Regions from separate parts of the Homo sapiens genome. Here all the other regions are linked to region 1. Evidence: fine-mapped expression QTL. A gene starts in region 1. Each other region holds a variant in brackets. All regions are shown on one strand. Distances are from middle to middle.

Region 1 (8,169 bases):
GGTCAGGAGTTCGAGACCAGACTGGCCAACATGGTGAAACGCCGTCTCTTCCAAAAATACAAAAATTAGCAGGGCGTGGTGGCACACGCCTGTAGTCCCAGCTATTCAGGCAGACAGCTGAGGCAATAGAATAGCTTGAACCGGGAGGTGGAGGTTGCAGTGAGCCGAGATTGTGCCACTGCACTCCAGCCCGGGTGACAGAGCGAGACTCTGTCTCAAAAAATAAAAATAATAAATAAATAAAATTCCCATTTTTTGATCAAATGAAAAAAAAAATCTACAAAGTAGAAAACCCCAAAAACCATAACACTAGATAATAGTTGACCACTAATGCCTGAAATGATTATCATGAGCGATTATTTCTTTGGGTCTAGAAGGCCTTTGTGTAGATGAGCGACCACTATGACCAATTCACTCCTTGCCTACCATCCAGACACCTTAGCCTCACTGCCAACAAGCTAAGAGATGCTGGCTGAGTAAGGGCCTACTCTGGCTTATAAGGACCCCTGCAGCTCCAGTGATTTATAATTCTAAGTAAACTAACACTTTAAAGAGATGAGTCAAGAGCTGCTTGATGGAAAATCACTCCAGGCAAAGGATACTGAGTGCAAAGGAATGACGGGGGCATACATGGCTGGAGCAGGATGATGATATGAATCACAGGCGATAACATCAAGGAGGTGGTGTGTGTGTGTGGATGGGGAAGAGGGGACAGGATGTGTAAACCTTTGATAGATTTTGGTTTTCACTCAGAGGGAAGTGGAAAGCACTTTAGTATTTTTGTTTTCTTTTCCTTTTTTTGTTCTTGGAGCAAAAAATGGAGTGTTGCTCTTGTTGCCCAGGCTGGAGTGCAATGGTGCCATCTCGGCTCACCACAACCTCCGCCTCCCAGGTTCAAGTGATTGAACAGCCTCCCGAGTAGCTGGGATTCCAGGTGCCCGACACCACACATGGCTAAATTCTTTTGTATTTTTAGTAGAGACAGGGTTTGGCCATGTTGGCCAGGCTGGTCTCAAACTCCTGATCTCAGGTGATCTGCCTGCCTCGGCCTCCCAAAGTGCTAGGATTACAGGCATGAGCCACTGTACCCAGCCTAATTTTCATTTTATAATTTTTTTTTTTTTTGAGACAGAGTCTTGCTCTGTTGCCCAGGCTGGAGTGCAGTGGCACAATCTCTGGTCACTGCAACCTCCGCCTCCAGGACTCAAGCGATTGTCCTGCCTCAGCCTCCGGAGTAGCTGGGATTATAAGCCTGTGCCACCACGTCTGGCTAATTTTTAGTAGAGATGGGGTTTCACCATGTTGGCCAGGCTGGTCTCGAACTCCTGACCTCAAGTGATCTGCCTGCCTTGGCTTCCCAAAGTGCTGGGATTACAGGTGTGAGCCAGTGTGCCTGGCCAAATAATTTTAATTTTTTAGAGACAGGGTCTCACTTGGTTGCTCAGGCTAGAGTGCAGTGGCACAATCACAGCTCACTGCAGCCTGGAGCTCCTGGGCTTAAGTGATCCCTCTGCCCAGCCACCTGCATAGCTGGGACTATAGGTGCATACAACCACCCCTGGGCAATTTTTTTGTAGAAATAGGGTCTCAATATATTGCCCAGGCTGATCTCAAACTCCTAGGCTCAACCAATCCTTCTGCCTTGGCCTCCCAAATTTCTGGGATTATAAGCATGAGCCACTGCACCTAGCCTGACTCCAAGACTTGATTTGAGCAATTGGAAGGATGGAGTTGTAATTTAAGGAGAGGGGGAAGACTGTGAAAAGGGCAGTGGAGGTGTAATGAATCAGGAAGTTAGTTTTGGACTTATGCTTGATATGCCTGTAGAAACATCCAAGGGGGGATTTTGAATAGCTAGATGAATATGCTATATGTCTGGATTGGGGAAATCAGGAGTAGAAATAGAAATTTGGGAGCTGTCAACATATAGATCGTATTTAAAACCATGGGAGTGAATGAGGTCACCAAAGGAATGAGTGTATACTTTGAGAAGAAAAGAAGTCTGCTGGGCGCAGTGGCTCATGCCTGTAATCCCAACAGTTTGGGAATCCAAGGTGGGAGGATTGCTTGAGCCCAGGTGTTCAAGACCAGCCTGGGCAACATAGTGAGAACCTGTCTCTACAAGAAATAAAAAAGTATTAGCCAGGCCTGGTGGTGTGTGCCTGTAGTCCCAGCTACTCAGGGCCTGAGGTGAGAGGATTGCTTAAGCCTGGGAGGTTGAGGCTGCAGTGAGCCATGATCGTGCCACTGCACTCCAGCCTGGGCAGCAGAGTAAAATCCTGTCTCAAAAAAAAAAAAAAGAAAAGAAGTCCAAAGACTAAGCTAGGGGCACTCACTCCAGAATATAGTGGTCAGGAGGGTAGGTGGGAACTAGCAAAGAACCCACTTCTGAGTTGCTAATGCGACAGATGGAGAATCAAGAGAAGAGTGGGCCTGGAAGCCAAGTGAATAGAGCATTCCAGAAAGAGGGAGAAATCAATCGTGTCCAATTCTACAGCTAGGCTGAGTAACTGAGAAAGGACTGAAAGAGGACCATAGGACTTACCATGTGGATTTCATTACTAACCTTGTCCAGAGTGAGTGCTCAATGAATCAGTGAATAAATGAGTGTAACTTTCTCCAACTATATTTGATTAGGACCCAGTAACTTGGGACTTTGTTTCTCCAGGAAGAGTTTGACAAATTATTTGAATGAAATACCTTTTCCCTCAATGTCTAAACTCCTCTTTGGAATTGTAGGTGGTGGAAGATTGCAGAAGGTTCCTAATCTCTGGAAGCCAGGCAGTCTAGTTGCCTGTGGTCATTTCTTTGTACTGTTCCACACAGCCATACAATACTCCAATCCCTTCAGGGCGAAGGAGTCATCAACACCTGAAAAACAAATACTATACTCCCAAAATTACAGAAAAACACCTGCAAACTGACTCAAGTGAGTTTAGTTCATTTAGTCAGGCTGGGGGAAGAAACCACATTTTTGAGATAATTAACTCATAGCATTGTTCAATAAAGTCTTTTATTGGAAATTGTGATGATTCAAGGCATATTCCCATAAAATACAGTGAAAATTTAAATCGAAAGCAGCTGGACCCTGATGTATTGTTCTCTGAAAGAGGAAGATTCCACCTTAAAGGCAGTCATTCTATAGCAGTTCCCATTTCTTAGGTGCTTACTATATACCAGAAACGGTACTAAGAAGTGCTTTATGGACATTTAGCAAAGTGAATCCTCACAACCACCCTACGAGAGAGGTACTAGTATCATTCCCAGATGATAGATGTAATATTAATAAGCTACAGATGAGGAAATGGATGCTTGAAAAGTTTGAAGGGACATCTTAGGAATCAGTTATCTCCCCTGGGGAGGGACCTTCAGGAATGGCCTGATCCCTATCAGGAGAGCTGTCCGCTGTTCAGGATGTCAAAGGTTCCTGTTCTGCTTCTAGAAGTCAGCTTTTCCTGGGAGGAAAAGTGGGCATGGGCTGAGGTGAGAGCTGGGGTGCAGGTGGAGTATGAAGACTCCTCAGAGAAAGGAAATAAACAAAAAATATTTATTGAGCTTCTACCATGTATCAAACCCAGTCACTAGTCACTATTTTATCCTCAGACAGACACCTATAAACCTTTAAACCACGTGTGTGTGTATATATATATATATTATAAGAAAGCTTAGAGAGGATAAGTAAACTTGGGATCACACAGATGTCAACAAGGGGAGAAGCCTGTCCGGGTGTGGTGGCTCATTCCTGTAATCCCAGCACTTTGGGAGGCTGAGTGGGGAGGATCACATGAAGCCAGGAGTTCCAGACCAGACTGGACAAGATAGGGAGACCCCACTTCTATTTTCTAATAGAAATTAAAATAAAAAATAAAGAAAATTTCTTTATACATTGAGCTGAAATTAAACCCCACTGTGGCTTCCACCAATTTTTGCTCTCTGGAGCAACTCAAAACACATCTAAATCCTCTTCTACAAGCGAATCCTTTAAATATTTGAAAATACCTATGTCTCTCTTCTGTGCTCTTCTGGTACCAATAGTTTAAATGGGTAACAGTAGACTTTGTTTTATTCAATCTTTTAAAAAGCAAATAAAAAGTAAGACATGCTGGGTGCGGTGGCTCACGCCTGTAATCGCAGCACTTTGGGAGGCGGAGGTGGGCTGATCACGAGGTCAGGAGTTCGAGACTAGCCAGACCAACATGGTGAAACCCCGCCTCTACTAAAAATACAAAAATTAGCCAGATGTGGTGCACGCCTGTAACTCCAGCTACTCGGGAGGCTGCGGCCAGAGAATTGCTTGAACCCAGGAGACAAAGTTTGCAGTGAGCCGAGATCACGCCACTGCACTCCAGCCTGGGAGACAGAGCGAGACTCCGTCTCAAAAACAAAAAGTAAGACATTACCAATATGATGCCAACCCTCATGCACTCATCCCCAACCCCACACTTCTCTTCTCCCACCCCTTCTATCTGCTTTTGTATTTATTTAGCCTATGGGATCCCAATGCAGAGGAGCCCTGGTGGACGCATTTATAGTGCAGCGATGAATAGAAGACAGTGATAGTCTTATACTGGAGTTGAAATGTGATAAACATTTATACACTGTGTTTATAAGTCGTGTAACTCTGGCCAATTTATCTGGTCTTTCTAAGCTCACTTTCCTCGTCTGTAAAATGGGAAGAATAATCATACTTATTGCGCTGGTTGTTATGGGGATTAAGCAAGATAATTCTCTAAAGCTTTGGCACTTGGCGCTGAAAGTAGCCATTCCATGTCTTCTTTCCCGCCCCGCCTCTTGTGCTCCCCACCGCTTTCGTGATGTCCGCAGTTGCCCACCTGCCTCTACAATAAAAAACGCATCCCTCCTCCTGCAGGGTCCACCGCACCGGGAAGCCCTGTCTGTATCAGTTACCAACCACAATTGCAGTGAGTACGAATCGTGGCTTTCCCACAGTCAGGAAAGGCAAGGGAGACCGACGACCCGCTTCTCTAGGAGTAAGTAAAGATTAAAGGTAGTTCGCGGTATAGCCTAGGCAGGGATTAACCCGTGGTCCCAGCGCTCCTGCTATTTGCATTCCAAAGCAGACACCTCATGCGCTCAACCCCGCCCGCAGGCGGCTCCCGCAGTCTAAGGGACCTGGCGCGAGTCCGGGAAGCGGAGGGCGCAGCTGCGCAGGGAAGGGGGCCGGGGGCGGGACCAGGGCGCGCGTTCCGGTCCCGGGGCGTGGCCTCCCGCAGGTGAGTACGCTGCTCCTTCGGTTTCCCTGAAACCTAACCCGCCCTGGGGAGGCGCGCAGCAGAGGCTCCGATTCGGGGCAGGTGAGAGGCTGACTTTCTCTCGGTGCGTCCAGTGGAGCTCTGAGTTTCGAATCGGCGGCGGCGGATTCCCCGCGCGCCCGGCGTCGGGGCTTCCAGGAGGATGCGGAGCCCCAGCGCGGCGTGGCTGCTGGGGGCCGCCATCCTGCTAGCAGCCTCTCTCTCCTGCAGTGGCACCATCCAAGGTGAGAAACCTGGCCAAGGAGGGCTCTTATCTCTGAGGAGCTGGGGTCCTGGGCACGCTGGGCAGACGGTGGGATCCGGGCAGGTGTGCGAAGGCTGTTCTGCTGCCGGCACCCATCTCTACGAATCCCTTAGCCTCCCCTTGGTGGCTTTGATGTGAGGTCTCTGCGCCAAGGAGGCACCCAGGTGGGACATGCGGGAGCAGCTGAAGTCAGCGGAGCCGGGCAGAGGCAGAGATTTCCCCAAAGACCCCACTTCCCGTAGAGGCTGTCATGCTGGGCACCTCCAGGCCCCAGCGTGGGTTCGGGGAAAGGGAGGGAAGGAAGGAGTAGCTGTGTCTAAAGGGTACGCAGAGGACCTAGTCCCCTCCCCGGGCTTGGTTGCTTTGTAAACACTAAGTCATTAAGAGCTTTTTGCCAACTCCGGAGACTTCCTCCGCTGGCCCCGCGGGGCCGGTGGGGTTAGCGAGCTGATTGCGCAGGGCAGGGCGGAGTGGGTGGGAACCCGCGGCCCGGGAGCCTTCTAGGTTGTTTTTTGCGTCCCTCTCCAACTGCTGGAAGCCTTTCTTCGGGTTCTGGCCCCTGCGTTCGAGACCCACCCGGGTCCCGCTGCTCCTGGCACCCACAGTGGAAGGCCCGGGGTATGAAAGTCAGGGCCGGTCCCTGATGGGTTCTGGTGGTAATGAGCGCTCAGGCCCGTTGGGCGCCACGAGGATTTACGAGCGGAACTTTTTGGACCCTGCCTTATATTTGACCAGTTGACCCTCTGGGCCTGGGGTTCCGGGACTTTCCTAGTGTGCCACCCGGAGCGGCCACTGGCTGCCACCCAGGTCTGCAGGCCAGAGGCTGGCTGGCCTGGGAACAGAGCAGCACTTGCGCCCGGCCGTCGCGTTCCTTGGATGTGCTGCTCCGGGTGTGCTCGAACTTGTATTGCTGGGAGTGTGTTCTTCCGGGCCCAGCAGGCCTCGCTGTGGCCGTGGGGGATGTTTGACCTGCGATCGCGCCACTGTGATCCTAACCGAGGCCCCTCTGTTTGGGGCAGCCTGGGTAGCAAAGGGAGCTTTTAATTTCCCTCAGAAATGCGCATTTCTCACTTTTATCCTCCTCTTCATAAAGACGAAGTAAAAGAGCAAGTCACAGTGGGTTGGAATTAGATGGAAGAATGTGATTCTTTTCCCTCTGCAGTTAGGGAAAAGGGTGTTAATGGTGTAAGCTTGAAAACTGTGCACCGCTGGTATATTTTTTTTTCTTAATCAGCATCAGAATAAAGGCATTTAGTTCCAGGAAGTATTGAAAACTGTAATGGACACCTCTCCTCTATGTCCTTTAAAGTTGGAAACTTAAAATTCAGGAGCAAAGGTTAGTATGTGCAAACTTTAAAAAAATACATGTTGGTATAGCTGATTCAACATCTTTATGATTCAGAGATCCCTGTAGGAAGCATGCCCCGATTATTTGTCTTGTTCTTGTTTACTACTCTTGGGGGATTGGGAGATCCCTGGATTATAAGGCGAACTTGATTTAACAATAAGGAAAAATCAGGTTACTTGTTAACTATAGCCACTTAATATTGCACCTTGTTCCTCATCCTCCCCCCACCATACTTTTATTCCCTTGCAAAGTAACTTTCCCAAAGGGTTAGTGAAGTAACACTGACAATTGATTTAGGCAGATGGAGCTTTCCTCCCACCTTAAAACTAAATTGATTTTAATAAGAAATACAGTGTTAGCAAAGCTTTTCTGCCCTCAGGGTGGGTCTTTGCTCACTCGCTTTTTAGCCGGTCCTTCTGCGTGCCCCTCAGGTGGCTGCAGGGCCGATTTGGGGTTTGATTTTCTTCCCAAAGCCTCACTCCAAAAGACTGCCTCATAGAAACGAACTCAGCCGAGATCACAACCTTCTCAGGGTACAGGTGAAGGACACTGAATTGAGGAGGCAAGGCAAGGAAAACACTTGGAAATCAGGGCTTCTCTTTCCCTTTACAATAGTAATTGATAATTATTTGGGTAAACATGCTTAATATGTGTCCTCACTGCATCGTTAACTCCTGGAGGCAGGGGGCCCTACCATCCTTTCCATCACGTCTAGCATAGTCTCATCACCTACGGGACCTCAGTAAATAGCAAATGAATGAAGTGAGGAGTCTTGCCCAGAGTACCCTGGCTGGTCCATGTGGTGTTCATTTCAGTCAGCTTCTCTCTGCCACTTACTTATTTTTTTCCACCATGTTACAGGCCTAGGTCATTCCATTTATCTTTTGGAGACTGGAACTTCTGTTTTCTTTATAATTGGTTTGGTGGTTTTTTTTTGTTTTTTTGGTTTTTTGGGTTTTTTTTTTTTTTGACTCTCATTCGGTTGCCCAGGCTTGAGTGCAGTGGTGCAATTTTGGCTCATTGCAACCTCCACCTCTCCCGGGCTCAAGGAAGTCTCCTGCTGCAGCCTCCCGAGTAGCTGGGACGACAGGCACGCACCACCACCCCCAGCTAATTTTTGTATTTTTAGTAGAGACAGGGTTTCACCATATTGGTCAGGCTGATCTCAAACTCCTGACCTCAGGTGATCCACCCACCTTCAGCCTCCCAAAGTGCTGGGATTACAGGCATGAGCTACTGCGCCCTACCTATAATTGTTTTTTAAATTATAAAAACAATATGTGATCACTCGAGGGAAAAATGAG
Region 2 (8,169 bases), 31 kb after region 1:
GCCATAACGCCCACGATGGAAGGTTGTGAGTTTACTGGAATGAGTGCAAGGAACACCTGGCCCTCCCAGGGCGGAAAACTGCTTAAAGGCGTTCTTAAACCACAAACAATAGCCTGAGCGATCAGTGCCTTAAGGACATGCTCCTGCTGCAGATAACTAGCCAGACCCACCCCTTTATTTCAGCCCATCCCTTCGTGTCCCATAAGGGATACTTTTAGTTAATCCCATTTCCCATAAGGGATACTTTTAGTTAATCGAATATCTATAGAAACAATGTTAATGACTGGCTTGCTGTTAATAAATACGTGGGTAAATCTCTGTTCGGGGCTCTCAGCTCTGAAGGCTGTGAGACCCCTGATTTCCCACTTCACACCTCTATATTTCTGTGTGTGTGTCTTTAATTCCTCTAGTGCCACTGGGTTAGGGTCTCCTTGACTGAGCTGGTCTCGGCAATTTACTTTGTATTTTAGGCATATTTTCCCCCTGCTATTCCTCACCACCAAGGCAGTGACCCTCAAAAGGTACGGCCTTGCGGGAAGTTGGTCCCATTTCTCTTTGTATTAGCTCTGAGAGGAAACCTAAGCTATTCTTCTAGGTGGGCTGCAGAAAACTTCTGTGCCGTGTGGAACATCCTTTGCTCTGATGAGTTTTCTATCATTCTTTTTTGGAGAACATGAGGGCATGGCAGCAGCCACTACAGCAGGAGCCTGGAGTCCCAGCTCTGGGCCCTAGCCAGCTCACCTGCATATGAGGGATTAACTCTCAACACTGCTGGATCTGGCTCAGGTCTGAGTTCCTCACCTCAGCTCCACCATGTAGCCTGGGGTGAATGGCAAACCCATGGAAAGCGTTTAATTATAGCTTCTATGTACCATCGGGTAGACTCAATTACCTAATCCCGAGAAAGCAGTTTTAGCCAAGCCTTATGTTGTGAACTCTTTCAGAGGCCACCTGGGCTCTTGCAGGGGAACTGTGTCTAGTTCTTACCAGTGGAAGTCAGACTTTTTTCTTTAACCAGAGATTTGTGTAAATGGGAGACTTTGTTAAAAATATAACAGATTTATCAGAATTTATGGCTTAAAAAATTGCAGCACAGGGAGGGAAATGATGGTGTTTATTCTAGTGACCATTTCTGTCCATTAAAACTGAAATTCTTTTTTTTTAATCTTTTTAAAAACTGTGTTTTTTTTTTTGAGACAGAATCTCGCTCTGTTGCCCAGGCTGGAGTGCAGTGGTATGATCTTGGTTCACTGCAGCCTCTGCCTCCTGAGTTCAAGTAATTCTCCTGCCTCAGCTTCCCTAGTAGCTGGGATTACAGGTTTCCGCTACCACACCTGGCTAATTTTTGTATTTTTAGTAGAGACGGGGTTTCACCATGTTGGCCAGGCTGGTCTTGAACTCCTGACCTCAAGTGATCCACCTACCTCGCTCTCCCAAAGTGCTGGCATTAGAGGCATAGGCCACGGTGCCCAGCCTAAAAACTTTATGTTTGTTTGTTTATTTTATTTTATTTATTTATGTATTTTTCTGAGAGAGAATCTTGCTCTGTCTCCCAGGCTGGAGTGCAGTGGTGCCATCTTGGCTCACTGCAACCTCGGCCTCCTGGGTTCAAGCGATTCTCCTGCCTTATCCTCCCAAGTAGCTGGGATTACAGGCGCCCACCACCACGCCTGGCTAATTTTTGTATTTTTGGTAAAGACTGGGTTTCACCATGTTGGCCAGGCTGCTCTAGAATTCCTGACCTCAAGTGATCCGCCCACCTCGGCCTCCCAAAGTGCTGGGATTACAGGTGTGAGCCACTGCGCCCAGCCCTAAAAACTTTATTATGGAGGATTTTATACCCATACAGAATTAGGATTGTATAGGGAAACTCTATGTCTCCATCACTCAGGCCCAATATCCATCAACCTTTGGTCAATTCTGCCCCATCCTCCTCCCCATCCCGTTTATTCTGAAGCAAATCTCAGGAATCATATTATTTCACTCGTAAATGTTTCAGTGTCTAAGACAAGAAATTTAAAAATCATACCTCAAAAAATTTCTTAATATCAGATATCCTGTCAGTGTTCAAATTTCTACTCATCTCAATTATCATAAGTGGTTTCTTTTTTTAAAAAATCAGAATCTAAATAAAGCTCAGACATTGCAATTGGTTGATGACTTTTAAATCTCTTAATTTATCTCCACCCTCACCACTTGCTACTTACTTGTTGAAGAAACCAGGTTGTTTGTAGATTTTCCCCATAGTCTGGATTTTGCTGATTGCATCCAGAACTGGAAAGTGTGAAAGCATATTAGAGGAAATGAAAAGGCTCTGCCGATCGAGAACTCTGGTTATACAACTGTTCACAAGCACTTAGCAGGAACAACGAGGAATGCTAAAATTCTTATCACTGTGCCCTCTTATGTGGTGCCTGCCTCATGGTGATCTTAATGTTCTCCTAAAGATAGGGAAGAACAGGACCCTAGACCACAGTCTTGTGCTTGGGAGCTACACTTGGACAGGAATCACCACCCAAAACTGGCAATGCAGACAGATTACATGTGTTTTCTTCCGCAGATTTGTTCTGATCTCCCCAGACATCCGTCATTCTATAATCCTACAGTTTGGACCTTCTTAGTTTTCACTTTCAGGTGGGAAAGACTAGTAATTAATTAATTAATTAATTAATGCTTTTATAGAGACAGGGTCTGGCTCTGTCACCTAGGCTGGAGAGTAGTGGTTGCAATCACAGCTCACTGCAGCCTCAAACTCCTGGGCTGAAGTGATACTCTCAACCCCAGCCTCCTGAGTAGCTGGAACCACAGGTGTGCACCACCATGCCCAGCTAATTTTTAAAAAAAAATTTGTAGAGATGGTGTCTCCCTATGTTGCCCAGGCTGTGTTGAACTCTTGGGCTCAAGTGATCCTCCCACCTCTGCCTCCCAAAGTGCTGGGATTACAGGCTTGAGGCACAGCACCCAGTCAAGAGGTTTTTGGGTTTTGTTTGTTTTTTGAGACGGAGTCTCACTCTTGCCCAGGCTGGAGTGCAGTGGAACAATCTTGGCTCACTGCAACCTCTGCCTCCCGGATTCAAACAATTCTCCTGCCTCAGCCTCCCGAGTAGCTGGGATTACAGGCGCACACCACCATACCTGGCCAAGAGTAGTTATTTTGGAAAGAGAGACGTTTCAATCTTCAGAACATATCTTTGGCCGGGTGCGGTGGCTGGTGCCTGTAATCCCAGCACTCTGGGAAGCCAGGCTGGGAGGATCACTTGAGCCCAGGAGTTCAAGACTAGACTGGGCAAGCAACATGGTGAAACCCCATCTCTACAAAAAAATACAAGTATTAGCCAGGTTGTGGTGGCATACCCTGCAGTCCTAGCTATTTGGGAGGCTGAAGTGGGAGGATCACTTGAGCCTGGGAGGTTGAGGTTGCAGAGAGCTGTGATTGTGTCTCTGTACTCTACCCTAGGCAATGGAGCAAGACTCTGTCTCCAAAAAAAAAAAAAAAAAATTTATCTTTGAATTCTTTCTTTCAATATATTGTTATCTGTATTTCTGTACTGAGTGCTGTGCTTCTTGACCTGTCTCTGCCCTTTTCTGTGTATTTATTTATTTAATTGACAAGTAAAAATTGTATATATTATGGTATACAAATACAGCTTGATGTTTTAATTTATGTATACATTGTGGAATTATTAAG[T/A]CAAGCTATTTGACTTAATTGCCCCATATACTTGTCATTTTTTGGGGGTGATAAAGACACTTAACATCTACTGTCTTAGCAATTTTCGATACACGATATATTGTTATTAACTATAGATAGCATGCTGTACAATGGGAGCTCTTAAACTTATTCCTCCTGGGCCAGGCGCAGTGTCTCACGCCTATAATCCCAGCACATTGGGAGGCCAAGGTGGGCGGATCACTTGAGGTCAGGAATTCAAGACCAGCCTCACCAACATGGTGAAACCCCATCTCTACTGAAAATACAAAAATTAGCCAGGCTTAGTGGTGGGCGCTTGTAATCTCAGCTACTTGGGAGGCTGAGGCAGAAGCTTGAACCAGGGAGGTGGAGGTTGCAGTGAGCTGAGATGATGCCACTGCACTCCAGCCTGGGTGACAGAGCAAGACTCTGTCTCAAAAAAAAAAAAGAAAAAAAGAAATGCTGTGAGGAATTATTAGCCATGAAGCTTCAGCAGGCAGGTTAGGTAGCTTTTCCAGTCACATACTGGTGAAGTAAGGATTTGAACCCCAAGACTCTGGTGCCAGAGTAATTGCTCTTCACCATGAGGAGGCACCAGTGGGGGAGTGTTGGATCACAAGCAGTTTCTTTTTCTTTTTTTTTTGTTTTTTTGAGACGGAATCTGGCTCTGTCACCTAGTCTGGAGGGCAGCGGCGAGCTCAGCTCACTACAACCTCTGCCTCTCAGGTTCAAGCGTTCTCCTGCTTCAGCCTCACGAGTAGCTGGAATTACAGGCGCCCGCCACCATGCCTGGCTAATTTTTATATTTTTAGTAGAGATGGGGTTTCGCCACGTTGACCAGGCTGGTCTCAAACTCCTGACCGCAAGTGATCCACCCACCTCAGCCTCTCAAAGTGCTGGGATTAGAGGCATGAGCCACTGCACCCAGCGCAATTTCGTTAGAGACTTGGTGCCTTCCCATTTCTTTTACTCAGCAATATACCAGCTTTAGGTCCTAAATTAAACCTCTTCCTGCTTTCCCACCTGATGAAGAAACGTGCCTGCAGTGTGGTGAGTCTGGACCACGCAGACTCAGAACAGCACTACTCACAGCAGGGCCTCTTGCTCGCTCTAGCTGCTGGGAGGAAAACGGCTTGCTAATCTCCACGCCCAGAAATTCAGACAAGAGCATTCTCCTTATCTCATCTGCACAGGAAGCAGGTCTAAGGTAAAAGATTATTTTTGTGGAAGATTCTTGCTTTTCAGTCTAGTGGTTGAAGTGTGAGCCTGGCAGGCGTTGGATTAGAGAGGGCAACAAGAGTGGAGGTTGTGAGGTGGGGGGTTGCCTTGGGGCTTCCACTCTAAAATGTGGCCTTACCTTGGCCACAAAGGGGTCGGGGGGGTGGGGGAGAGAGAGAGAGAGAGAGAGAGGGAGAGAGCAGCCTGATCATAGCTCGGAGCGTAGAGGTTCTGGTAAGTTCCTTGCCCTAAAGAACACTTAGTTCATTCTGGCTCCTTTCCTGGTGACCATCCTGGCTTCCTGCTTGGCCTTCACCTCACCTTGAGAAATTCAAGTTTCATGTTCTTGTCCAGGCCAAAGACCCAGAAGAACCTTCAAGGTGAGGCTTGGCCCCTTAGATCCACGCCGTGATTTCGCTTCTTTTTCCTGAAGCCTGCACAGATGCCAGTGTAAGCCCACTCCCAGGAAGTCACAGCAGTGGTCTATGCTCCTCCTCTTCACACTGGCCAGTGCTGGGCATGCCTGGACAATCAGCCCTGGAATGGCTGCTCTCAGCCTACAGAAGAAGAGAGGGAAGAGGGATGGAGGGGCTGGGGAGAAGTTGGTGAGAGGACACAAAATTTGGGTTAGACAGAGAAATAAAGTTTTTTTTGTTTTTTGTTTTTTTCTGAGATGGAGTTTCACTCTGTCACCCAGGCTGGAGTGCAGTGGTGTGATCTCAGCTCACTGCAACCTCCACCTCCCACTTGGCTTCCCAAAGTGCTGCGATTACAGGCATGAGCCACCGCTCCCCAGCCTCCTCATGGGATTTTTGAGGATGACATAAAGGAATACATTTAAACTGCCTAGAAGGGTGCTTGGCCCAGAGTATGTGCTAATTAACGTTGGCTACTATTATTTTCCTTCAACCCAGTGCCGGTGCAGGTCTAGAGGAAAGCATGAGGTGATACAGGGGCACCCAGAGGCGGAGTGCTCCCAGGAGCTGAGGGGCATCGGAGGCTTCCCTGGAGGACTGGCACCTGAGCAGAGGAATGGGCAGCACAGTGGCAGTGCCACGTGTGCGGCACAGATGGTGCAGAGGGGATGGGTGGGCACACTGCGGGGAGTTTAGATTTAGCCAGGGGATGGCAGGGCCTGTCCAGGAGGTTAAGTGAGGAGCTCAGGTGTGCCTCCCAGCAGGCAGGGGAGGCTAATTTTGAAGAAGAGCAAAGTAGGTGCAGGAGGTGAGTTGGGATCTCATGCAGTAATTCAGGCCAGAAGTGACAAGGGCCTGAACTATGGCGCTAGGGTTGAGGAGGAAGGAACAGAGAGTGAGGAGATACAACCTGGCAACTGATTGCATGAGAGAGAGAGAGGGGCCAGGAATAGCATCATACTCAGGTTTCTGGCCATGCAGTTGGGTGAATGAGGGTATTGCTGTTGACTGGAGCAGCAAAAAAAGGGGATCCCCTCTGGGGTAGAGGAAGAAGGGAGCAGGGGATTGGAAAATGCCAAAATCAGTTTGCTGTGGTTTGGAATCTGAGACTCTGATGTGTTACCTAAGTGGAGATGTCCTGTGGTCAGTTTATTTATACTCTCCTGGGTCCTAGGTAGGATTTAAGGTGACATATGAAGATAACACAAAGTAGAGTAAGATATTATAAATTAAGTAGGAGAGAAAGCAGACAGAAAAGAACGAGATGTAAAGTAGAGGAAGGAATGAGGTTAAATATAAAGTACACAGCAGAAAGCAGAAGTCACAAGCTGGCCAGCATTCGCTGAATTTCCTGTTTGAGTTGTCCTGCAGTCTTATGTTTGTCTGTTGGGTTTTGGTGGGTTTTGTTTGTTTGTCTTGAGTTGCAGTCTTAAAATCCAGGAATTCTTAAAAATTAAAATTTCTCACTTTTTCTTTTAAAAAAAAAAAAAGTGAAGTTCTGGGAGCTCTGAGCCATATCCCATCTGGCAACGATGATCTGGGTCTGAGAAGCAGTCTCGCCTTCTTGGGAGAGCACGGGCTCTCCAATTTCCCACTGGCCTCCACTCCACTTGGCTGTCTGGCACTGAAGCAGTGTCGGTCCTCTTATCAGCATGGACTATTTCTCTGAACTCACCCTTCTATCAAATGTAATAAAAAAAATTAGTCAAGATATTTTTTTTTTCTTAGTCTCAATTTTGCCTGTTTACACTAGCAGCCTGGCCGTGGAAGCAGGCTGATGCTCCCTGTTCACAACTGCTTTTCATTCTGCTTAGTGCCTCTGTTGTATCTGTTGTTAAATAGTTTGGGCTGGGTGTAATGGCTCACACCTGTAACCCCAGTACTTTGGGAAGCTGAGGTGGGTGGATTGCTTGAGGCCAAAGTTTGAGAATAGCCTGGCCAACATGGTGAAAACCCATCTCTACTAAAATACAAAAAAATAGCCAGGAATGGTGGTGCACACCTGTAATCCCAGCTACTCAGGAGGCTAAGGCACAAGAATTGCTTAAACCCAGGAGGCGGAGGTTGCAGTGAGCTGAGATCCCGCTACTGCACTGCACTCCAGCCTGGGTGACAGAGTGAGACTCTGTCTCAAAAAACAAACAAACAAACAAAAAACAGCAAAGTTTGAACATGACCCGGCTGTAGGTATTTGAGTTTGCAGCATGTGGTAAAATCAAGTATTCGGCCTAGGTGGCTCATGAACTTGATTCTAGGCTTTCTAGCAGCCAAAGAAAAAGAGGATACATTATCTGTCTTATCCTATCTTATCAGCTGGGCTATTCATAGTATCCATGGGATGACTGCTTAGGCAAGTCAGGACTCTTCTCAACACAAGAACCAGAGCAACATTTTTCCCCTGAGAGTCTTCATAGAGAGGGAATGAAAAGTTCAAACAACATTCATCCCAGAGTCGATTCAAGTCTAAGGCTGATGATTCTAGCAGCTTCAAGCAGCATTTCCCTTGAAGCACAGCTGCTTAAACAATTCTAGGAGGGGCCAATGTGATACAGTTCAGACACCTAATTTTCTACTGATCTGGCTATATTAATTTCAGAAACTTTAGAAAAATCTAGAGAAATGCCTGGACTCCCTCCAAATAATCCTCCATAGATGGTCTGAGGATGTGATGCCTGGAATTGCAGCAGTCATCTTGTGACTGTGCGGGGACAAGTCAGAGATGAGAGCTGGCACACAGAAGATAGGGAAGAAGAAAGATAGATCTTGGGCCCTTGATAGCATTGACAAAACACTGAAACAACCAACTTTTATAGTAAGAGATAGCAAATTACCTTATTAAGCTTGAAC
Region 3 (8,169 bases), 27 kb before region 1:
CTAAAAATACAAAAATTAGCCGGGCATGGTGGCGGGTGCCTGTAATCCCAGCTACTCGGGAGGCTGAGGCAGGAGAATCGCTTGAACCTAGGAGGCGGAGGTTGCAGTGAGCCAAGATCGCGCCATTGCACTCCAGCCTGGGCAACAAGAGCGAAACTTCATCTCAAAAAAAAAAAAAAAAAAAAAAAAAAAAGGCCGGGTGCAGTGGCTCACGCCTGTAATCCCAGCACTTTGGGAGGCCGAGGCGGTTGGATCACGAGGTCAGGAGATCGAGACAATCCTGGCTAACACGATGAAACCCCGTCTCTACTAAAAATACAAAAAATTAGCCGGGCGTGGTGGTTGGTGCCTGTAGTCCCAGCTACTTGGGAGGCTGAGGCAGGAGAATGGCATGAACCCAGGAGGCAGAGCTTGCAGTGAGCCAAGATCGCACCACTGCACTCTAGCCTGGGCAACAGAGTGAGACTCCGTCTCAAAAGAAAAAAAAAAAGTCTGGATTTTATCTGTGCATTTTATGTGTCAACTTGACTGGACCACGGGATGCTCAGATATTTGGTTAAACATTATTCTGAGTGTAACGCTGAGGGTGTTTCTGGATGAAATGAACATTTCTATAGGTTGACTGAGTTAAGCAAATTGCCCTCCCCCATGTCTGTGGGCCTCATTCAATCGTTGAAGGCCTGAATACAACAAAAAGGCTGAATATAACAACATTTGTTCTCTCTGGCTGACTGTTTTTGCGCTGGGAACATTAGGCTTCTGCCTTTGGGCTTGGACTTGGACTGGAATTTACATCATTTGTTCCCCTGGGTCTCCAGCTTGGCAACTGCAGATCTTGGGATTTCTCAACCTCCATAACTACATGAGCCAATTCATTTGTATATGTGTATATATTGGCTCAGGACAGCACACCTGACAACTCTGGTTCCCAGCTGCAGGGGGAGGCTACCCAAGTATCTGGCAGATCTCCAACTATGCATGCACAGGGTAGACTCCAAGCAGTTCAGATAAGGCTAAAATAACAGAGGCTTCAGCTGTTCACTCACCACGGGGGAGGCAAAATTCAGAATTTGAGTTCAGCCAAGTTAACTGCCTACTAAACTAAAAATTTGGGATAAGCCAGGTGCAGTGGCTCACACCTGTAATCTCAGCACTTTGGGAGGTCGAGACAGGCAGATGACTTGAGCCGAGGAGTTCAAGACCAGCCTAGGCAACATGACAAAACCTCATCTCTACAAAAAAAATAAGAATTAGCGGGGCATAGTGGTGTGTGCCTATAGTCTCAGCTACTTGGGAGGCTGAGGTGGGAGGATCACTTGAGCCCAAGAGGCAGAGATTTCAGTGAGCCGAGATCATGCCCCTGCACTCCAGCCTGGGCAACAGAGTGAGTCCCTGCCTCCAAATAATAATAATAGGTCTGGCCCAGTAGCTCACGCCTGTAATCACAGCACTTTGGGATGCCTTAGAGGGCAGATCACCTGAGGTCGGGAGTTCAAGACCAGCCTGACCAACATGGAGAAATCCCATCTCTACCAAAAATACAAAATTAGCCAAACTTGGTGGCACATGCCTGTAATCCCAGCTACTCGGGAGGCTGAGGCAGAAGAATCATTTGAACCTGGGAGGCGGAGGTTGCAGTGAGCCAAGATCGCACCATTGTACTCCAGCCTGGGCAACAAGAGCGAAACTCCATCTCAAAATAAATAAATACGTAAAATAATAATAATAATAAATAATTTGGAATGTCCTGGCTGGGTACTCAGCAGGTCACTGAATATGCAGATATGTGGGAGAACAAGGGTAGGGGAGTGAGCAGGAACCTGGGGAGACCAAAAAGCAGAGAAAGAACTCGGACAGGTCTTGCCACTGCAACAGTCAGAGTAGGAGGCAAGTGCCACTGCCACAGCCGCCAGACACGGGCCCTTGCTGCTCCTGGACTCTTGACCCTGCCACCCTGGAAACAATCTGTCATTCTCCTGACATGCAGGTACTAATGCCCTCAAAAGTCAAAAATCCTGGGTAGGAATGTCTGATTGGTGTAGCCGGTATCATATGCCAGTGCCCCAACTACCAAGGAGAAGGGGAAAAGAATGTCTGTGCGTCCTTCGGCTGCCAGAGTAGGGTACCTCCTGCAAGCTCATATTTCCCCAGGAAGCAGGAAGCAGGAAGCAGGAGCCCATGCCAGGAGGGCCACTCTATTGCCAAAAGGAAATCACAGCCAAAAAAAAAACAAAACACTCTTTTTTTTTTTTTTTTTGAGAAGGAGTCTCTCTCTGTCACCCAGGCTGGAGTGCAGGGGTGCGATCTCGGCCACTCTTTTTTTTTTTTTTTTGAGAAGGAGTCTCTCTCTGTCACCCAGGCTGGAGTGCAGTGGTGCAATCTCGGCTCACTGCAAGCTCTGCCTCAGGGGTTCGTGCCATTCTCCTGCCTCAGCCTCCCGAGTAGCTGGGACTACAGGCGCCCGCCACCACACCCGGCTAAGTTTTTTTGTATTTTTAGTAGAGATGGTGTTTCACTGTGTTAGCCAGGATGGTCTCGATCTCCTGACCTCATGATCCACCCGCCTCGGCCTCCCAAAGTGCTGGGATTACAGGCATGAGCCACAGCGCTTGGCCTTTTTTTAGACAGAGTCTAGTTCTGTCACCCAGGCTGGTGTGTGTCATGTGCATCCATGTGAAGAGACCACCAAACAGGCTTTGTGTGAGCAATAAAGCTTTTTAATCACCTGGGTGCAGGTGGGCTGAGTCCGAAAAGAGAGTCAGCAAAGGGAGTTAGCAGTGGGGCAGTTTTATAGGATTTGAGTAGGTAGTGGAAAATTACAGTCAAAGGGGGTTGTTCTCTTGCTGGCAGGGGCGGGGGTCACAAGGTGCTCGGTGGGGAGCTCTGGAGACTTATTGTCCAGGAAAAGGAATGTCACAAGGTAATGTCATCAGTCAAGGCGGGAACCGGCCATTTTCACTTCTTTTGTGATTCTTCAGTTGCTTCAGGCCATCTGGATGTATACTTGCAGGCTTGGGCTCAGAAGCCTGACAGTGTGCAGTGGCACAATCTCAGCTCACTGCAACCTCCGCCTCCTGGGTTCAAGCAATTCTCCTGCCTCAGCTTCCCGAGTAGCTGGGACTACAGGCGCACGCCGTCACATCTGGCTATTTTTTTGTCTTTTAGTAGAGATGAGGTTTCACTGGGTTGCCCAGGTTGGTCTCGGACACCTGAGCTCAGGAAATCCACCCTCCTGGGCCTCCCAAAGCGCTAGGATTACAAAAAAATCCTCTTTGACTATCCTCTATTTCCTTTCTTTTGCTCTTTCTTCCCTTATCTTCCTCACCAACTTTTTAATCTACATACAAAATATTCTGTGCATTGTGGAGAGCAGGGAATTGAAAGTGTGGTTGGCTGAATAATGGTCATCCAGAGATAGCAGTCCCTAATCCCTAGCACTTGTAAATGTTGCTGTATAAGGAAAAACGGGCTTTGTGTATGTGACTAATTTAAGGATCTTGCCATGGGGAGATTATCCTGGATTATCTGGGTGGACCATCACAAGTGTCCTTGCACAAGCCAGGCAAAGGGAGATTAGACGCACAGCAAGAGAGGAGGCAACGTGGCCACCAAGGCAGAAATTAGAATAATACGGCCACATGTCAAGGAGAGCCAGCAGCCACCAGGAGCCGGAAGGGACAAGAAGCAGATTCTCCCTAGAGCCTTCCAAAGGCCCACAGCCCTGCTGACAGCTCGCTTCCACCAGTGATACAGATTTCAGACTTCTGGCTTCCAGAACAGTGAGAGAATATATTTCTGTTGTTTTAAACTATCTAGTTTATGGTAATTTGTTACTGCAGTCACAGGAAACAAATACGCAATATGAAGAAGATGTGAAAATATTATACCTTTAAAACAAGGCAGAAAGAAGGAAGCAAGGATGCTGAGCTCATGAGTGCAATGTTAGTCACCTAGCACACAAAGGAGTGAAAGCCAGATAAAATAATCCAGAAAACCATGTGTCTTTCGAAAATAAATCTAGGATTAGAATAGGACAGACTGAGTAACACAGGGAAAAGTAATAACTCTGTTGATCCATCTAAACCAGATATATAATCTCCTGACAAATAGAGCAGGAGGTATGAATAGGAGGACATTTTAGTTGTTTAACTGGTGAAATGTTAGGGGGTGGAAGGGGGAAAGAGTGGCACAGGCTAAATCGGCTAGATGACTCAGAAAATGAATTTGTTTTCAGATAATTGCTTCCTAACGTAGCAATGATGCAGCTCTTAGTCATTCCAATAGCAAACAGCCATTCTGATAGCAATTCCACAGAGACAGCAAACCAGCTAGAACAAAAGACTGCTCCACCCACAACAAGGACTCTGGTGGGAAAAAGTTCCTAGTGAATGAATCCAACATAATTGACTCTGAGCTGCTCTTGTGTCAAAGACAGGCTA[T/C]GAGAAACTGGCATGGATGGGAACAGCTTCAGACATTGGCTTCCTGTTGTGTCTTCTTGCTGCTGTGAAATGAGGCTCTAAGATAAACAGAGCAGAGGCACATCTGGAGAGGAAGGTTACCAGAAGGGTGATGTCACTAGCAGCAAATCAGAACCCCATCTTTCAGCCTAGCAGGGATTTGAAGGATTTGTATCATAGTATGCAAGGGGCTTCCAGCACTGCATGGCCTCTATCTTTAATCAAAGTCAGAAGCCTACAGGCAGGAGTGGGCTGAGCTTCTCATGTGTGCTCACATCGTGCTGGTGAGCCACTGAAGGCCTGATAGGAGGAGAGTAAGACTCAAAAACTCTGCTTAAAATCCAGATGTGTAAATGAGACGTACTCTATTAAAGAGGACAAGAATCAAACATAGGAAAACTATTATACCACTAAGATGACACAAGGCCCAAGCTGAAGTGCTTAGAAGTTTGTGGATATGAATTAACATATTTTTTTTCTTGAGTTAGCATGTGATTCCTACTCTTTGAGAAAGGTGGCTTTAGCCATGAGCTTGTACTGTTGGTGGGACTTGCTGTTTAATCAGTCAACAAATCACCAATGGGCACAGCTGTGTGCTAAACGCCAACAGGAATATAAAAGCACAGCATCCCTGATCTTAAAGGGTTTTTGCAGTTCTGCTGGGAAAATTAAACAAGCAGGAAACATCAGCATTCCAATGCAGTAAAAGCATATTGTGTACTCTTGCCTGTTGCTGCTACAGGAGTTTATTAATTCATCCACTCAACTAATAGTTATTGAATGTCTGCTTGGTGCCAAGCATGCTTCTGGGATACAGCAGTGAACAAACCAACACCAAATCTCTGCCTCATAGAGCTTACATAGGGTTGGGGAAGGTCAGACGCATTGGAGATATCTACTAGACACCAAGGTGGAGATCAGATTGATGAGGGTGGAGCTCAGGGAAGAGATCTGGACCAGAATTCAGAACTCAGAAGATGTAAACACCAGAGTGGGCTGGAGATGCTTCAGGGAGCAGGGAAGACTTGAATGGGGCCCGTTTCACAACAGCAACAAAAGCCTCTTTCACCAGTTCTCTAGGCCAAGGCCCAAGCCCTCCTGGTTTATCTACTGCCTCTTTTCCCCACTTCTCCTTATCAGTTTCCTCTTTCCGGCCCATTTTCTTCATTCCCATCTGTCTTCTTCCCTTCCCCGTCTGCTTCCTTCATCTCTTCCTTGGATGGTTCCCTTCCTGCTTCCTTGATTCTATTCTCACCCCACTATGTTCCATAATGAATAAGAAAAATCAATTAAGCAAAAAATTATTCTGACCAAAGATGATAGGAAAGGAAAGAATTCTTAGAGGATCACCCCTTGAGAGAGAATTCAGTCTGTGTTAATTCTTTCAATCTGAGTAAAGTCTTCCAGGCTCCTGAGCTTGCCTTTCTGTGTGATATTGTTACAGGAAAGGGGTCCCGATCCAGACCCCAAGAGGGGGTTCTTGGAGTTTGCGCAAGAAAGAATTCAGATTGAGTCCATAGAGTAAAGTGAAAGCAAGTTTATTAGGAAAGTAAAGGAAAAAAGAATGGCTACTCCATAGACAGAGCAGCCCCGAGGGCTGCTGGTTGCCAATTTTTATGTTTTTTTTCTTCTTATCTTTTTTTTTTTTTTTTTTTTTAAGATGGAGTTTCACTCTTGTTGCCCAGGCTAGAGTGCAATGGCCCGGTCTCGGCTCACTGCAACCTCCGCGTCCCGAGTTCAAGCATTTCTCCTGCCTCAGCCTCCCAAGTAGCTGGGATTACAAGCGCCCATCACCATGCCCAGCTAATATTTGTATTTTTTTTAGTAGAGATGGGGTTTCACTATGTTGGCCAGGCTGGTCTTGAACTCCCGACCTCAGGTGATCTGCCTGTCTCGACCTCCCAAAGTGCTGAGATTACAGGTGTGAGCCACTGTAACTGGACTGGTTATTTCTTGATGATATGCTAAACAAGGGGTGGATTATTCATGCCTCTCCTTTTTAGACCATGTAGGGTAACTTCCTGATGTTGGCATGGCATTTGTAAGCTGTCACAGCACTGGTGGGAGCATAGCAGTGAGGATGACCAGAGGTCACTCTCGTGGCCATCTTGATTTTTGGTGGGTTTTGGCTTCTTTTTTTTTTTTTTTTTTTTTTTTTTGAGATGTTGTTTCACTCTTGTTGCCCAGGCTGGAGTGCAATGGTGTGATCCCGGCTCACTACAACCTCCGCCTCCCAGGTTCAAGCGATTCTCCTGCCTCAGCCTCCCGAGTAGCTGGGAATACAGGCATGTGCCACCACGCCCGGCTAATTTTGTATTTTTAGTAGAGACAGAGTTTCTCCATGTTGGCCAGGCTGCTCTCGAACTCCCAGCCTCAGGTAATCTGCTCTCCTTGGCCTCCCAAAGTGCTGGGATTACAGGCATGAGCCACCGCGCCTGGCTGGTTTCGGCTTCTTTACTGCAACCTGTTTTATCAGCAAGGTCTTTATGACCTGTATCTTGTGCCGACCTCATATCTCATCCTGTGACTTAGAATGCCTTAACCATCTGGGAATGCAGCCCAGTTTTCAGCCTCATTTTACCCAGCCCCTATTCAAGATGGAGTTGCTCTGGTTTAACTGCCTCTGACAATATTATCAGATCCTAAAACACAATCTTAGAAATAGCTGCTCTTTCAAAACACTAGACATATATTCAAAGCCATAGAAATGTGAATGCTGACTTCATTGTTAACTGTGCAGAGAGAGGGAAATGAGAGAAAATACATGTAAATTAGCATACTTGTGTTTTCAAAGTTGTTTTTATTTTTTATTTTTTTTGAGACGGAGTCTCACTCTGTCACCCAGGCTGGAGTGCAGTGGCACGATCTTGGCTCACTGCAACCTCCGCCTCCGGGATTCAAGCGATTCTCCTCTCTCAGCCTCCCAAGTAGCTGGGACTACAGGTGCTTGCCACCATGCCCAGCTAATTTTTTGTATTTTTAATAGAGATGGGTTTTCACCATGTTAGCCAGGATGGTCTTGATCTCCTGACCTTGTGATCTGCCTGCCTCGGCCTCCCAAAGTGCTGGGATTACAAGTGTGAGCCACCATTCAAAGTTGTTTTAACAATCTTATAAATTCCTTTTTTTTTTTTTTTTTTTGAGACAGAGTCTCACTCTGTTGGCCAGGCTGGAGTGCAGTGGTACAACCACGACTCACTGCAGCCTCAACTTCCTGGGTTCAAGTGATCCTCCCACCTCAGCCTGCCAAGTAGCTGGGATTAATTTTTTCTATTTTTTGTAGAGATGGGGGTCTCACTATGTTGATTGGGCTGGTCCCAAACTCCTGGGCTCAAGCAATCCTCCTACCTTGGCCTCCCAAAGTGCTGGGATTATAGGCATGAGCAATGGCACCCAGCCTTACATTCTTTTTGTAAGTTCAGGTGAGTTTGATCTTGTATCATAATAGTGAAGGCCCTCCTTTTTTATGTATCTTTCTTCTTTTTTATTTATCTTTATCCCTCCCTCCCTGTCTCCCTCCCTTCCTTGCTTCCTTCCTTTCCTCCCTCCCTCCCTTCCTTCCACGGAGTCTCTGTCGCCCAGGTTGGAGTGCAGTGATGCGATCTCAGCTCACTGAAACCTCCACTTCCCAGGTTCAAATGATTCTCCTGCCTCAGCCTCCCAAGTAGCTGGGATTACAGGTGCCCACCACCATGCCCGGCTAATTTTTGTA
Region 4 (8,169 bases), 22 kb after region 1:
TTCAAGGATACAGGCTATTTAACATTTTGGGTATATTGTGATGTATTTAATTAATTCCCTACCAACGGCTCCTTAGGTTGTCATCCCCCCACCCTTCTTTTTTTGACTTTTAAAACAGTGCTGCACCCAGAAGTCCAGAGTCGCTGACAGGTCCTCTGTTATCTAGGTGTTCTCTTCAAGATTCCATTTGGTCATGCAGCCTTGGAGAAATAGGAATGGGATGGAACTTGCCGTGTTTATATTTAATCTCTTACCTTATATGCGTAGTGTTTCTTTTGAGTTGCGCATAAATATTCCATTTTTGTTTTCTACAAAAAAAAAAAAAAGTGCTGTATCAAATATCTGTATACAGACATCTGTGAGCATATTTTTTGAGGATAAGTTTCTAGAAGTAGAATGGCCAGCTCAAAAGTTAGATGCTCATTTTAGGTTTTGATAAGTCTTGCCAAATTGTCTTCAGTAATGTATATTTCTACCAAAATGGTATATTTGCACCTGTTTCCTGAAATGCTCATCCACATTCCATGCTATCAATCTTTGGTTTCCCAATCTTATTGTTGTTTTACTGAAGAAGCAGCACAGCCTGGTGGCTAAGAGTGCAGGTCCTGGGCTGTGCTGAATTCTGACTCCATCACTGCTTACATTAGGGATGTTTTTATTACCTCAAGAAGTAAGAAAAAAAATGCGACTCATTTGTCAAATGGGGATAGTAGTATCTCAGTTTCCTCACTTGTAAAATTAGGATAATAGTATCTTCCTCATAAAGTTATGAGAATAAAATTATTTGGCACGTTTATGTGGTCACAAATATTAAATAATATTATTATTATGCTCTGTGGACAAGACCTGTTTTCTGCTCTGCCCCCTTTCACTTCAGTGTCACTGCTTTCTTTGCCTGTTCTGCTTTGAGTCTGATTGCAGGCCTGTGAAGTTGTCCCCGTTTGTCAGGTGAGAAATGAGAAAATGGTGGGAACAGGATAAAAGGGAGCAGGAACAAATGGCTCACAGAGCCCCGAAGGCCATCTGTAGCTGACCTCCACCTCAGTGGAGAACATTTTTTTGGTGTTTGTCATTTCTTGGTTTTTTTTTTTTTTTTTTTTTTTTCTGGTGGGGGGTGGACAGGGTGTCGGTCTATTACCCAGGCTGGAGTGCAGTGGCTATTTCCACGTGTGATTCCACTACTGATCACTATGGGAGTTTTTCCTGCTGCATTTCCCTCCTGGGCTGGTTCACCCCTTCTTAGGCAACCTGGTGGTCCCCTTCTCCTTGGAGGTTACCATATTAATGCTGAACTTAGTGCAGACAATGATCAGCATAGCCCACTACAGCCTCACACTCCTGGATTCAAGTCATCCTCCTGCTTCAGCCTCCGTATTAGCTCGGGCCTACAGGAACATGCCAACACTCCTGGCTATAGTCTTTTTTTTTCTTTTTGTAACTATGCAAATCTCTTTTTTGTGGCTATACTTTAAGAATAAATGTGTATGAATGTGTGTACATACATATATACTTTAACTTCTAAATCAGTTTATATAAATTGTCCTCATAATTTTTTTAACTCATTCACTGTTTCTCATTAATTTATTTTTATTTTTTTTTTGGTAGAGACAGGGTCTTGCTATGTTACCCAGGCTGGTCTCAAACTGTTGAACTCCAGAGATCCTCCCTCCTCAGCCTCTCAAAATGCTGTGATTACAGGCATGAGTCACTGTGCCCTGCCTGTTTCTCATTATTTTTAATGACCAGGTAGTATTTCATGTATGAATGACCCAACATTTAGTCAGAAGTACCTATTAAAGAACAGATATTTTTCTTGGTTTATTTTCACCAAGCCTTTGAATCTACATTAAAAAGTACAAAAGAACCAGGCGCGGTGGCTCACGCCTGTAATCCCAGCACTTTGGGAGGCCGAGGCGGGCGGATCACGAGGTCAGGAGACTGAGACCATCTTGGCTAACATGGTGAAACCCTGTCTCTACTAAAAATACAAAAAATTAGCTGGGCGTGGTGGCGGGCGCCTGTAGTTCCAGCTACTTGGGAGGCTGAGGCAGGAGAATGGCATGAACCTGGGAAGTGGAGCTTGCAGTGAGCCAAGATCGGGACACTGCACTCCAGCCTGTGCGATAGAGCAAGACTCTGTCTCAAAAAAAAAAAAAAAAACTAAACAAAAAAGTATAAAAGAAATGATTTGAGAAATTAAAATTATTTGCTAAAGCAAAAGCTTATTTTTTTTTTGAGATGGAGTCTCGCTCTGTCATCCAGGCTGGAAGTGCAGTGGTGTGATCTCAGCTCATCGCAACCTCTGCCTTCCAGGTTCAAGTGATTCTCCTGCCTCAGCCTCCTGAGTAGCTGGGATTACAGGCGCCCGCCACCATGCCTGGCTAATTTTTTGTATTTTTAGTAGAGACGGGGTTTCACCAGGTTGGCCAGGCTGGTCTCGATCTCCTAACCTCAGGTGATCCACCCACCTTGGCCTCCCAAAGTACTGGGATTACAGGTGAGAGCCACCGCGCCTGGCCCAGCAAAAGCTTTTCAAATCGTTTTGTTCTGCCTTTGAAAAGTGGCTTAGAAAACCCCCTGGTCTATCTGAATTAGGCTCCTGATTGGAAGCATGAGGAACTCTGGCCCTAGCGGAGTAGTACCTTGGATGTGGTTGTCTTTGCTCTTGTGTTATATGTCATACTGTGGTCTAATTTCTCTAAACTGAGTCCTAAAATGTCTGAAAATGTAAATACTTTGAACTCCACAGGCTTATGTACTAACAGTGAGGCCTCTTAATTTGAAAGTGAACGAAGATTTGCAGTCCTGATGCTCAGGACAAAGGCCAGTGCTAAACTGACTCGGCTGGAGTTGTTTTATGGGCTTTTTCCTAACGTGTCACCTCAGTGGTTTGCAGCAGGAGTTTCAAACCTGTAATTAATTTCCTGGTTATCAAGGTTTCATAAACTTTAGGGCTATAATCTCATCAGTATGCATAGTTTAGTGATTACAACTTTGTTCCTGAAACATTAACCCTTTGGAGGCCCCTGAGAGGACTATAATTTATTGCAGAATCAAAGGTAGTACTTGCTGTCCTCCGGATCTTGATTAAAATGATAAGTTTTTGCTTGGGTGTTTAGATGTCTTCTCAAAAAGAAGTTTCTGATGTGGCCAGTCCTTTCCTGACCCCCAGTTCTGAAGACAAAAACCAAGCCCTTAGTGATCAGGGATCTAGCCCTACATTTTATTCAAGCCTTGGAACTTCACTGAGATGATTGTCCCACTTAAATGTCAACAATTAGAGTGACTCAGACCAACCTTGGAATGCCTCTCTGGAGGGACAGTTTGAAATATTCCGTGATTTGAGTATGAACTGCTCTTGCCTCTACCAGTGGGTCAATCTATGGACTGTTTCCCAGCCTTTGTCTTTATTGGTGAGAAATTAAGCCTGACCAGAGTTACAGACAACCTCCGGTAAAAACCACAGCCCAAGCCTGCGGGCCCATCAAGAACCCAGCAGCAGTGTGAGTGGTTCAATCCTTCATCCTGTGAAAGGAAAATAAATCCTGTGGCCCCAAAATCACTAAGCTAATGGGAAAAGTCAAGCTGGGAACCGCTTAGGGCAAACCTGCCTCTCCTATTCAAAGTTACCCCTCTGCTCACTGAGACAAATGCATATCTGGGCCGGGTGCGGTGGCTCATACCTGTAATCCCAGCATTTTGGCAGGCCGAGGTGGGCGGATCACGAGGTCAAGAGATCGAGACCATCCTGGTCAGGAGTTCGAGACCAGCCTGGCCAACAAGGTGAAACTCCGTCTCTACTAAAAATACAAAAAAAATTAGCCGGGCATGCTGCTGGGTGCCTGTAGTCCCAGCTACTTGGGAGGCTGAGGCAGGAACATCGCTTGAACCCAGGAGGCGGA[A/G]GTTGCAGTGAGCTGAGATTGCGCCACTGTACTCCAGCCTGGGTGACAGAGCAAGACTCCATCTCAAAAAAAAAAAAAAAAAAAAAAAAGCATATCTGATTGCCTCCTTTCTAGAGGCTAATCAGAAACTCGAAAGAATGCAACTGTTTGTCTCTCATCTACCTATGACCTGGAAGCCCCCTCCCCGCTTCAAGTTGTCCTGCCTTTCCAGACCGAACCAATGTTCATCTTACATACGTTGATTGATGTCTCATGTGTCTCTAAAATGTGTAAAACCAAACTGCTCTGAGCACTGTGAACCCTAAACATTTGAGACAGTTCTCAGTTAATTTAGAAAGTTTATTTTGCCAAGGTTGACGCATGCCTGTGACACTGCCTCAGGAAATTCTGACGACATGTGCCCAAGGTGATCAGGGCACAGCTTGGTTTTACACATTTTAGGGAGACATGAAACATCAATATATGTAAAATGTACATTGGTTTGGTCTGGAAAGGCGGGATAACTTGAAGCAAAGACCAGAAAAGCAGGGAAGGGACTTCCAGGTCACAGATAGGTGAGAGACAAACTCTCTTGCATTCTTTTGAGTTTCTTCCTTTCCAAAGAAGGCAATCAGATATGCATTTATCTCAGTGAGTGGAGGTTGACTTTGAATAGAACGGGAGGCAGGTTCGCCCTGTGCAGTTTCCAGTTTGACTTTTAACTTTTAGCGCAGTGATTTTGGGGGCCCAAGATATTTTCCTTTCACACCACCTTGGGCACATGTCGTCAGGACCTCCAGAGGCTGTGTCACGGGCATGTGTCCTCAACCTTAGCAAAATAAACTTTCTAAATTAACTGAGACCTGTCTCAAATATTCAGGGTTCACAATTCCACAAACATTCATTGCAACATTACTGCATTATTAAATGCAAATAATTAAATTAGGATTTCCACCTTAACAGCTATCCAGTTGAGGGGTTGATGTTCTCTCAGTGGAATACATCAATATTTAAAAAAAAAACACAAACCCCAGAAACCTAACCCTCCAGTATATGGGCTTCTCAAAAGCCTTTAAAGCATAGCTTATTCCAGAGCTAGATCCTGAGACAGGCAGAAAGTCAAAGTAAATGTGAAGGACAAGAAGTTTCCAGAAGGGCCACTACTATGGCTTACCCCCCTAACCACTGCTTTGTTTACACCATTGCTTGAGCCCAGCAGTTCAAGGCTGCAGTGAGCCACGAAGCCATGATCACACTAGTGAGTAGCTACTACACCCCACCCTGAGGAACATAGTGAGACCTCATCTCTAAAAAATGAAAAATAAATAAAAAGAAGAAGAACTGAATAGAATAGAATAGATGGCAAATAGGCATATTGAAACATAAAAGATGCTTAGCCTTAGTCATTAGAAAAATGCAAATTAAAAAACCCATACCTATTGAGTAGCTAAAATAAATAAGTAAATCTGAGAGTATAAGTATATAATGAGAAATGAACACCCTCCCTACCCACCACATGGGAACCCGTTTATACGCCCTCTGTATATTCTTTGAGATGTTTTTATGCATGTATAAACATGTATACATGCTTTTTAAAAATAAAAGGAGTTACACCATGTATTAGTTAAATTACACATAAATTACCTCAAAATTTAGTGTCTTAAGACAGTCATAAACATTTACTAACTTTCACAGTTTCTGTGGGTTATGAATTCAGGAGCAGTTTAGCCCAATGGTTCTGGCTTAGGATCTCATGAGGTACCAGGTAAGATACTGGCTGGAGCTGCTGCTAGCTGAAGATGTGACGGGGGCTGGAGGATCCTCCACAGGGCTGGCATGTTGGTGGCAGAAAGCTTCAGTTCCCCTCCACGTGGGCCTCTTCACAGGGCTGTTGGACTGACCTCATAACATGAAGATTGGTGTTCCCCAAAATGAGTGATCCATGAGAACAAGGGGAAAGCCACAATGCCTTTCATTACTTAGCTTCAGAGGTCACACACCATCACCTCCACCATGCTAGCTCCAATTGCTTGGTCAGACAAGCTAGCTCCAATTCAATCTGGGAGAAGACTACCTAGCATAAACACCAGGAGGCGAGGATCACTGGGGATTACATGGGAGGCTGGTTTCTGCATTATATACGTGAACACATCTTGGATATGATTGCCATGTTAGCATTTACAGATTGACCTCATTATTTTAAATGGCTATCTCCATGTGCACATATACCATAATTTATGGAATCCAGCTTATGCTATACTTATATTGCTATATAAATAATATTTGAGTGGAAATCTGTACATACTTGTTAATTCAATATTCTTCCACCACGCACTATGTGCCAAGTCATCTTCTAGGCAGTAAGGAATATTGTGGAGAACAAAATAGACAAGAACTCTATTCTCATGGAGTTTACTTTCTGATTGGAGAAAGACTGAAAACAAAACAAAATATCCAATAGTAGTAAATGCTAAGAGTATTTTATATTGGGAGATCAGGGAAGGTTTCTAAGGAGGTGAAATTTAAGTGGCAATGTAAAGGGCAGGAGAGCCAGCCATGGGAGGATCCCAAGCAAGGGCTTTATGGGAATGAGTAAGGGAAGGAAGAGTATGAGCAAGTAGGCTGGAGAGAGGCAAGAGCTTGATAACTGAAGGGAACTGTAAGGGAGTAAGGAGCTTGATTTTCTTTCTACATGGGATGCCATAGGTTTGTTTTACTGCCCATTTAAAAAATCACTGGTGGCCGGGCGCGGTGGCTCACGCCTTTAATCCCAGCACTTTGGGAGGCCAAGGCAGGCGGATCACGAGGTCAGGAGTTCAAGACCTGCCTGATCAACATGGTGAAAGCCCGTCTCTACTAAAAATACAAAAATTAGCTGGGCGTGGTGGTGTGCACCTGTAATCCCAGCTACTCAAGAGGCTGAGGCAGGAGAATCGCTTGAACCCGGGAGGCGGAGGTTGCAGTAAGCTGAGATCATGCCACTGCACTCCAGCCTGGGTGACAGAGCGAGACTCCCTCTCAAAAAAAGAAAAAAATCACTGGCTATTATGTGGAATAGGGATTATAGAAGGACAAGATGAGAAAGCAAGAACAATTTGGAGTAATCCAAGCAAGAGGTGATGTTGGCTTGAATTAGGGTGGTGCTAACAGAGAGGGAGAGAAGAAGCCTAAAGTCAACAGATGTGAAAAGAAGAGGAATCAAAGCTTGTGCCTAGAGTTTCTGCTTGATGGATAATGGTGAAATAATTAGGAGTGAGCATGTTTGGAGGTTGAAAGTTAAGAGTTCTGTTTTGACCATGGCATCTTGAGATTGAGATGCCTGTTAGACATCCAAGCAGCATTGTTGAGTAGGAGGTTGGGTGCGGTGGCTTACACCTGTAATCCTAGCACTTTGGGAGGCTGAGGTGGGAGGATCATGTGAGCTCAAGAGTTTGAGATCAGCCTGGGCTACGTGGCAAAACCCTATCTCTACAAAAGATAAAAATAATTAGCCCAGTGTGGTGGCATGCGCTTGTGGTCCCAGTGTTACTCAGGAGGCTGAGGTGGGAGGATTGCTTGAACCCAGGAGGCAGAGGTTTCAGTGAGCTGAGATCGTGCCACTGCACTCCAGCCTGGGCAACAGCGCGAGAAAAAAAAAAAAAAAGAACTTGGTGAGGTTACCTATGTTACTAGAAAGGGGTCCAGATCCAGATCCCAAGAGAGTTTTCTTGGATCTCACTCAAGAAAGAACTCAGGGCGAGTCGATAAAGTGAAAGCAAGTTGATTAGGAAAGTGAAGGAATAAAAGAATGGCTACTCTGCAGACAGCAGCCCCCATAGCTGGTGGTTGCCCATTTTTATGGTTATTTCTTGATGATATGTTAAACAAGGGGTGGATTGTTCATGCCTCCCCATTTTAGACCATATAGGGTAACTTCCTGATGTTGCCATGGCATTTGTAAACTGTCATGGTGCTCGTGGGTGTGTAGCGGTGAGGATAACCAGAGGTCACTCTCGTGGCCATCCGGTTTTGGTGGGTTTTAGCCGGCTTCTTCACTGCAAACTGTTTTATCAGTAAGGTCTTTATGACCTGTATCTTTTTTTTTTTTTTTTGAGATGGAGTTTCGTTCTTTTTGCCCAGGCTGGAGTGCAGTGGCATGATTTCGGCTCACTGCAACCTCCACCTCCTGGTTCAAGCCATTCTCCTGCCTCAGCCTCCTGAGTAGCTGGAATTACAGGCATGCATCACCACACCCGGCAATTTTTTTGTATTTTTAGTAGAGACGGGGTTTTGCCATGTTGGTCAGGCT

Alleles and levels. Alleles are on the strand shown, and positions count from the first base shown. SD is a standard deviation of normalised expression in the study named. Not every link is listed here.
For the expression in aorta of the gene that starts at base 5,263 in region 1, C is the low allele of the variant in region 3 and T is the other (moderate effect, 0.66 SD a copy in GTEx).
For the expression in whole blood of the gene that starts at base 5,263 in region 1, allele G in region 4 goes with a lower level than allele A (moderate effect, 0.43 SD a copy in GTEx).

What was found.
Region 2: its variant is fine-mapped to the expression of F2RL1 in blood mononuclear cells (TOPMed, PIP above 0.99).
Region 3: its variant is fine-mapped to the expression of F2RL1 in aorta (GTEx, PIP 0.98). The same link has a PIP of 0.9 or more in tibial artery.
Region 4: its variant is fine-mapped to the expression of F2RL1 in whole blood (TOPMed, PIP above 0.99).

The regions. Positions count from the first base shown.
Region 1 is chr5:76,813,768-76,821,936 of GRCh38, forward strand. F2RL1 (F2R like trypsin receptor 1) reads left to right here and starts at 5,263. Exons shown (of 2, transcript NM_005242.6): 1 at 5,263-5,497. The coding sequence starts at 5,416. RefSeq lists enhancers at 792-1,446, 4,979-5,596, 5,597-6,214 and a silencer at 4,997-5,291.
Region 2 is chr5:76,845,261-76,853,429 of GRCh38, forward strand. S100Z (S100 calcium binding protein Z) reads left to right here and starts at 4,754. Exons shown (of 5, transcript NM_130772.4): 1 at 4,754-4,895. The variant T/A (reference allele first, on the strand shown) is at 3,689.
Region 3 is chr5:76,786,531-76,794,699 of GRCh38, forward strand. No RefSeq gene overlaps it. Among named protein-coding and RNA genes, the nearest start is that of F2RL1, 28 kb to the right of the region's middle. The variant T/C (reference allele first, on the strand shown) is at 4,440.
Region 4 is chr5:76,835,784-76,843,952 of GRCh38, forward strand. It overlaps the pseudogene RN7SL208P. Among named protein-coding and RNA genes, the nearest start is that of S100Z, 10 kb to the right of the region's middle. The variant A/G (reference allele first, on the strand shown) is at 3,903.